Linked DNA regions of Homo sapiens. The protein of the gene in region 2 purifies or fractionates together with the protein of the main gene of each other region. This does not show direct contact. Each region holds a gene or a part of one and is shown on either strand. Other genes may lie near its edges. The genes, in order: ASNS and PAFAH1B1.

Region 1 (3,955 bases), on a different chromosome or scaffold from region 2:
AGAACAAAGAGGCATGTAAAGTACACTTATTTTTTCTAGTAGGAAAAAGCCAATTAAAACTATAACCTATTATTTTTATTGGAATCAGTCTTATAGGAGGGCAAAGTTCCTACTGCCGCTACCTGTTCTCAATATTTTTCTTATTTCTTCCTAAACTTCTAGAACAGTGCTGTCCAATAAATATATATGTAAGCCACATATGTAATTTTAAATATACTAGTAGCCCCATTAAAAGAAAAAGGTGAAATTAATTTTAAATAAACTTAACTCAGTATGTCCCAAATAGTAACATTTTAACATATATGTAATCAATATAAAATATTATCGAGCAGATATTTTACACTGTTCTTCCTACTCCAACGACAAAATCCAGTGTATTTAACACAATACATCTCAGTTAGGACTAGCCAGCACTTCAAGTGCTCAACAGTTACAGGTGGCTAGCGCCTACCGAACTGGACATGGCAGTTTCAGTGCATTTAATTTCTATTCCACTTAGTGCTACTTACAACTTCACCCTCTCCCTTTACTTTTATATTAAGATCTCAGTAAGTAACCAACTACAGACAGGTTCAAGCCCTACTTTACCTCTAATTACTCTTACAGCAATGCTATGAATCATGATTTAAAATTTAAAAAAAAAAACTGCTGTTAAATTATTAGTCAAGCGCCCAGGGCAATGGACAGTAAAGAAATAATGTAGGCCACGGGCCGAGATGAAAACTGTCCTTTTTATTTAAAGCTATAACAATCATCTGAAGCCAGCCCTGCAAAATGACAGCCATTGAAAAAGGCATGCTAGTTCTTTTGCCTTTTTCTGTACTTGGTCGCCTGTGTCCCTAAACAGACCTCTTCTCGGCAGGGTTTGCTCAGCAAGTCACTTGATGAGTCTTGCAGTCTACAGAGACAGGTGGGGACTGGTGGGGATGGCGGGGTGAGAGGGGAGGAGGAGGGTGAGCGGTCCAGGTGAGGAGGGGGGCAGTTGAAGGTGAAAGCAGACACCGAGACGGTGATAAGGCCGCAGTCTCTTCCTAGATCAGGACCACGCGACACCTGACTGCGCCCTGGCCACGAGCACGATCCGACCCGTCCGCCGCAGGGACCCGGACCGCGAAAATGTCCACAGGCTTCGACGCCACATAGTAAAAAAAAGTACACATATAACATTTACAGGGGCTCAAACTGCCGCTGCCTCCTCTCCGGAGCGGTCCGGCCTGCCGGCCGCGGTTCCCTCTCGATGCTTCAGGGAACCAGGACAGAAAGGTCCTTCCGCTAGCTGTCAGGTGCGTAACAATCGCTAGGCGTCCGCCCCGCCCTCCCTACCGCAGGAGCCGCAGCATCAGCAGGCGCCCGCGAACCGCGTCTGCCGGGTGCCAGGCTGAAGACCGCATCCTCCACCCCTTCCTTCCGGAGCAGCCCCAGGGCACGCGAGGAGGATGCTGGCGCGGGGCGCAGGGCACGGGGCGCAGGACCCGGCTCACCTGGGCGTAAGCAGGTCAGGGTGATGTGGCGGGCTGAGGCCAGGGATGTGGACAGCTTGACGGGCGGCGAGGCCGCTGGCGCTTATACCGACCTGGCTCCTGTAACGCGTGCGGGAAGTTTCATCATGCCTGCGAGGACCAACCAGCGCGCACAGGGGCGGGGCCGCGGGGTGTCCGGGGCGGAGCAGGACTAAGTGGGGCGGCGGAAGGGCGCAAGGAGGAGCTCTTTTGTTTCCAGCGCCTTGCGTCTCAGTGCGCCTGTTTAAGGATAGCCTCAGAGCTCCGCCCAGGCTACCTGCTGTTCTGACAATTAGGGAGGCTTCTGAACTTGGTTTGTTCTTCGGGAAATCATCACCGTTTTTTTGTTGCACTGCCGTCTGATTTATTATGCAGTGCAGAGAAAAGCTTGTCCTAAGAAACTGATGCGTGAGGCCTAAAATGTCCTTATAAGATCTATTAATAAATCGGGGCCAGGAGCGGTGGCTCACGCCTGTAATCCCAACACTTTGGGAAGCCAAGGCAAGAGGATCACTTGAAACCAGGAGTTCAAGACCAGCCTGGGAAACACAGCGAGATCACATCTCTATAAAAATTGGTGGCACACCATGGTAGTCCCAGCAACTCAGGAGGCTGAGGCAGAAGGATAGTTTGAGCCCAGGCGTTTGAGGCTGAGGTGAGCTCAACTCCAGCCTGGGCGACAAAGGGAGACCCCCATCTCTAAAACAATAAAATCTAAATCTAATTGATACATGAAGCCAAAATACATCAGTGGTCCTTAAACATTTTAAGTACAAAGATTCCTTTTAGAATCTCAAAAAGGATTTTGTCAACTTGCCTCCACAAGATGATTATGTGCTTTTAAGTATCTCTTTGATGAAGAAAAGACATCACGATTTTTAAAAAGTATCATAACACTCTTAAATCGTATTTTACTAATTACATCAGCACCGAAATAAATTGAGAAATAGTAAAATTATATGTGCACGACCTACTAAGATCAGACTACAGTCAATGCTTGGAGAGCATGCAGGTTTGATATCCCCATACAACGCATTCCTGACTAAATCAAAAACGTCAACAATTTAAAATCCCTAAGAACAGAAGATGGAGTAGTCGCTTAGTAGTTACAGGCAAGAGCAAAGATGAGAGATGACTTGTTCTAAGGTTCATTGTTGCTGGAAAGTTTTCAGTATCAAACAGACTTTGCTGTATCCTAATTGACGTACTTTAAACCTGAGAGCAATGTGGGAAAGTAGGTCTTCTATCTACATTTTACAAATGAAAAAATAAGACTCAGAAAAGTTGAGGGATTTATCCAAACACAGCTTCACAACAGTAGAGAACTGAGTCATAATCTGTGTAAACCCAGAGCCCATTTCCCGTAGCATCTTGCCTATGTAGTGAAAGACAGGTTCCCCTGCTTGGTGTGTTACCTAGTGTGCTTCCTTGTGCTGCGTATCTCCTGCTTGTCCGTCCAGAGCTCTACACTTCTCCACCTCACTTTCTATCCTGGCTCCCTTGCCCTCCTCTTTCAGGGAGAGTGTGCAAAGGCAGACATTTCAAGGAGATGCAAAAGGTGAAATTAAAATTGCTAATGAAGTTTTGGCACCATTGTCATTGATAACATCTTATCAGGAGACAGGGTTTTGAGATCAACCGGTCTGACCAAAGTTTATTAGGTGGGAATTTTCTCTTCCTAATAAGCCTGGGAGTGCTATGGGAGACTGGAGTTTATTTCACCTCTGCAGTCTCGACCATAAGAGACAGGTACGCCCCGGGGGGCCAGTTTAGAGACCTACCCCTAGGTGCGCATTCTCTTTCTCAGGGACGTTCCATGCTGAGAAAAGGAATTCAGCGATATTTCTCCCATTTGCTTTTGAAAGAAGAGAAATATGGTTCTGTTCTGCCTGGCTCACCGGCGGTCAGAGTTTAAGGTTATCTCTCTTATTCCCTGAACAATTGCTGTTATCCTGTTCTTTTTTCAGGGTGCCCACATTTCATATTGCTCAAACACACATGCTGTATAATTTGTGTACTTAACGCAATTATTACAGGTCCTGAGACGATATACATCCTTCTCGGCTGACAGGATTAAGAGATTAAAGTAATGACAGGCATAGGAAATCACAAGGGTATTGATTAGGGAAGTGATAAGTTTAGTCCATGAAATCTTTACAATTTATGTTTAGAGATTGCAGTGAAGGCAGGCATAAGAAATTACAAAAGTATTAATTTGGGGAACTAATAAATGTCCATAAAATCTTCATAATCCACGTTCTTCTGTCATGGCTTCAGCTGGTCCCTCCGTTTGGGGTCCCTGACTTCCCGCAACACAGCACAGTGCCTGGCACAAAAGAGTTGCTCAATAAATACATCAGGATGAATAGATAAATACACGGATAGGCACTTTGAACTACAGATGAGCTTAAATACTTTGTGTTTTTCTTAGTCAAACATGTGCAATTAAGCATGTG
Region 2 (3,883 bases):
GGAGCCATTGTGATTAATGCTGGGAAAAGAACACTAAAATGTGCTCGTAGACAAGTTGTTTTTATCTCTGAGCTTTTATTTTTATCTGTAAATACAACAAATAATATTCCAGTCCTAAAATGGATACTTCATAGGCAAAGTTAGAATAAGTAAATAACATTGTTATGAGTTCATCATATAAAGCTCTTAGAAAAATGCTTAGCACATAGTAGATGCTCAATAAATATTAGCTTTTATTAATATTATTATTACCATATATAATGTGGTTTGGAAAGAACTTACTAAGAGTAGCAGCCTTAGAGGGACCAAGACAAATTCACTGCCCTTCTCTAATTAGTAGAGGACTCTGTCACCAGATACAAATCGAAATTTTTCTTTTTGTTAAAGAGTTAAGGCAATTGTACTGAATTTTTCTCAATTTTTAGTTTCCTCACATGACTTAGATTTTGATGCTGTACAAAATAAATAATTTTCATTTAAATTTGACAAATGCTTTGGAGATTACTGAAATTTTTTCAAGTATCCTACATACATAGTTGCAAAATAAAGGCAGTTTTTTAAAATGTCACATGCTATTTTTATTGAAATCTATCTGTACGTAACTACATGTTCTTTTTCAAGGTTATGGAATTAGAATCAAAGCTAAATGAAGCAAAAGAAGAATTTACGTCAGGTGGACCTCTTGGTCAGAAACGAGACCCAAAAGAATGGATTCCCCGTCCGCCAGAAAAATATGCATTGAGTGGTCACAGGAGTCCAGTCACTCGAGTCATTTTCCATCCTGTGTTCAGTGTTATGGTCTCTGCTTCAGAGGATGCTACAATTAAGGTAATTTTTTGTTAAAAGCAGACTTAACGGGAGGCTGAAGCAGGAGAATGGCATGAACCCGGGAGGCGGAGTTTGCAGTGAGCCGAGATTGCACCACTGCACTCCAGCCTGGGCGACAGAGCCACACTCTGTCTCAAAAAAAAAAAGCAGACTTAATAGGGTGAAGAAAATTAAAAGATCCTGAAAATGAGGGCCTATGAAGAGGGACAGGAGGTACTCTGAAACGTGTGATTTGGTTCTAAATCTTAAAAGACAGAATTGGAATAAAATATCATTGTGGCTCCTGAGAGGCATGCTGCCAGGTAAGTTTGATGGTGAATTTGAGAAAGTCGGGTGTCACTAACTGAGTTGATGTCAGTACATCACCTTGTGCTTGAACAATTTTTGTTCTTGGAGAATGAAAAGTGTGTGTCTTACCTTTAAACGGAGGTTATGTGTGAAATACTGATTGACAAAACTAGTAATTGATAGGGTGAATCTATACTGCAAAAGAATTCAGTAGAGGATTCATTTAAATTGGGCTTTCCTTGATGTATTTAAAATTGGCTTTCCAGGAGTGTGGGAATATACAAGCTTTTCATTTTATAAATTACGTATTTCATTAAAAAATTTTTTTCACAGTAAAAATATTATTACCTTTTAATGTTGTGCTTTTTTAATTAGGAAAAGAGTTGTTTTTAAGTTGCCTTTGTTCCGGACACAATAAAATGACCGTTGTATAAACCACCTACAGAAAGATAAGATAGTTGCAATATAGGTAGATTTAGGTAGATGCCTCTATCCTAAGGGTTATTTCAAAGTAAGTTACAGATATTAAGTTTCATTTACAAAAGTATAACCAATCGGCCGGGCACGGTGGCTCACGCCTGTAATCCCAGCACTTTGGGAGGCCGAGGCGGGTGGATTGCCTGAGCTCAGGAGTTCAAGACCAGCCTGAGCAACACGGAGAAACCCCATCTCTACTAAAATACAAAAAAATTAGCTGGGCATGGCAGCGTGCGCCTGTAGTCCCAGCTACTTGGAAGGCTGAGGCAGGAAATTCGCTTGAACCCAGGAGACAGGTTGCAGTTAGCCAAGATCGCTCCACTGCACTCCAGCCTGGGCGACAGAGCGAGACTGTCTCAAAAAGGTAGTTACAACTAACCAAATAGTAACGACGGTTTGGCCTTACTACTAACAGCAGAAGAAATAAACACTGAAATTATGGGCCGGGTGTGGTAGCTCATGCCTATAGTCCTAGGACTTTGGGAGGCCAAGGTGGGAGGACTGCTTGAGCTCAGGAGTTAGAGAGCAGCCTGGGCAACATAGCAAGACCTCGTCTCTACTTAAAATTAGCCAGGTATGGTGGTGCATGCCTGTAGTCCTAGCTACTCAGGAGGCTGAGATGGGAGGATCACATGAGCCTGGGAGTTGGAGGCTGCAGTGAGCTATGATTGAGCCAGTGTACTCCAGCCTGGGCGAAGAGTGAGACCCTGTCTTAAAAACAAAAAAATTGGACTGGGCACGGTAGCTCATGCCTGTAATCCCAGCACTTTGGGAGGCCAAGGTGGGTGGATCATGAGGTCAGGAGATCGAGACCATCCTGGCTAACATGGTGAAACCCCGTCTCTACTAAAAAATACAAAAAATTAGCCGGGAGTGATGGCGGGCTCCTGTAGTCCCAGCTACTCGGGAGGCTGAGTCAGGAGAATGGCGTGAACCCGGGAGGCGGAGCTTGCAGTGAGCCAAGATCGCGCCACTGCACTCCAGCCTGGGCGACAAGAGTGAGACACACATACATATATATGTGTGTCAAATTGTCAAGGTATTTTACCTATTAAATAAGAATTCCCAGTGATGATAAGATTTTGATAAAGTAGTCATTCTCATTACATATGATACAGTCTTACGGGATATCAATTTAATAGAGTATATGAAGGCTTTAAAAGTTTATACTTTTTGACCCACTAATTGTTTCTCCCCATTACTGTCTGACCTAGGTATTATAAAATGAGGACAGAATTTTTTTATATTAAAAAATGTTCACTATAATGTTTTCTATAATAGTGATTTAGCCAGCAATTAGAATTTTTTTTTTTTTTTTGAGATGGAGTTTCACTCTTGTTACCCAGGCTGGAGTGCAGTGGTATGATCTTGGCTCACTGCAGCCTCCGCCTCCCAGGTTCAAGCAATTCTGCCTCAGCCTCCCGAGTAGCCGGGAGTACAGGCGCCCACCACTGTGCCTGGCTAATTTTTTGTGTTTTTTAGTAGAGACGGGGTTTCACCATATTAGCCAGGATAGTCTCGAACTGACCTCGTGGTCCGCCCGCCTTGGCCTTCCTAAGTGCTGGGATTACAGGCGTGAGCCACTGCGCCCGGCCATATTTCATTTTTTAACTCAAAATGACATATGCTCTTGTTCATTTGCTATTCGTGAACAGTTAACATCTTCTGAAATCTTTCCTTGGCCCTTTAGATGTCTGAGTTCTGATGGTCTAGTAGGATCGAGTATTCATCCATTGTTCCTCAAATATTCTACATACAAATGCCTGCTATAGCCCTCTGAAGCTCCTTCCCTTCCCCTTCCCTTTCCCCTTTCTTTCCCTTTCCTTTCCATCTCTTTCTCTTTCTTTCCTCTTATTTCTTCCCCTTAAGTTTCCTTATTTACATGTCATTCCTGCTCTGAGACAGGGAGCGGACTATGTCTTGTGACTTTATATACCTTATCACTATTACAGTTGGTTATGTGATAGAAACCTTATAAATGTGGTTCTAGAGATAGATTTTAATAATTGCAACATTAGTTTTCCCTGTAGAAAAAAAGACCAATTTATACATGAGATACAATATTTCTAAAATAGTTATCCTTTGTTACTTGTTCGGTTAGTTACTCAGTAAGGTGCCAGACTGGCCTGCTGAGTGCAAATGTGAAACAAGAAAGGAGTGATGGAGTTGGTGTTAACCAATTTTCTGTTCACTTGACAGGTGTGGGATTATGAGACTGGAGATTTTGAACGAACTCTTAAAGGACATACAGACTCTGTACAGGACATTTCATTCGACCACAGCGGCAAGC

What was found.
Region 1: the proteins of PAFAH1B1 (region 2) and ASNS fractionate together in Homo sapiens (co-fractionation; 2 studies listed by BioGRID). This does not show direct contact.

Annotation. Positions count from the first base shown.
Region 1 is NC_000007.14:97,870,870-97,874,824, forward strand, and holds the start of ASNS (asparagine synthetase [glutamine-hydrolyzing]), read right to left. Parts: upstream 1,540-3,955; 5' UTR 1,482-1,539; intron 1,297-1,481; exon of another isoform or gene 850-1,296; intron 1-849.
Region 2 is NC_000017.11:2,666,371-2,670,253, forward strand, and holds part of PAFAH1B1 (platelet-activating factor acetylhydrolase IB subunit beta), read left to right. Parts: intron 1-621; coding exon 622-828; intron 829-3,792; coding exon 3,793-3,883. UniProt on the Homo sapiens protein: Regulatory subunit (beta subunit) of the cytosolic type I platelet-activating factor (PAF) acetylhydrolase (PAF-AH (I)), an enzyme that catalyzes the hydrolyze of the acetyl group at the sn-2 position of PAF and its analogs and participates in PAF inactivation.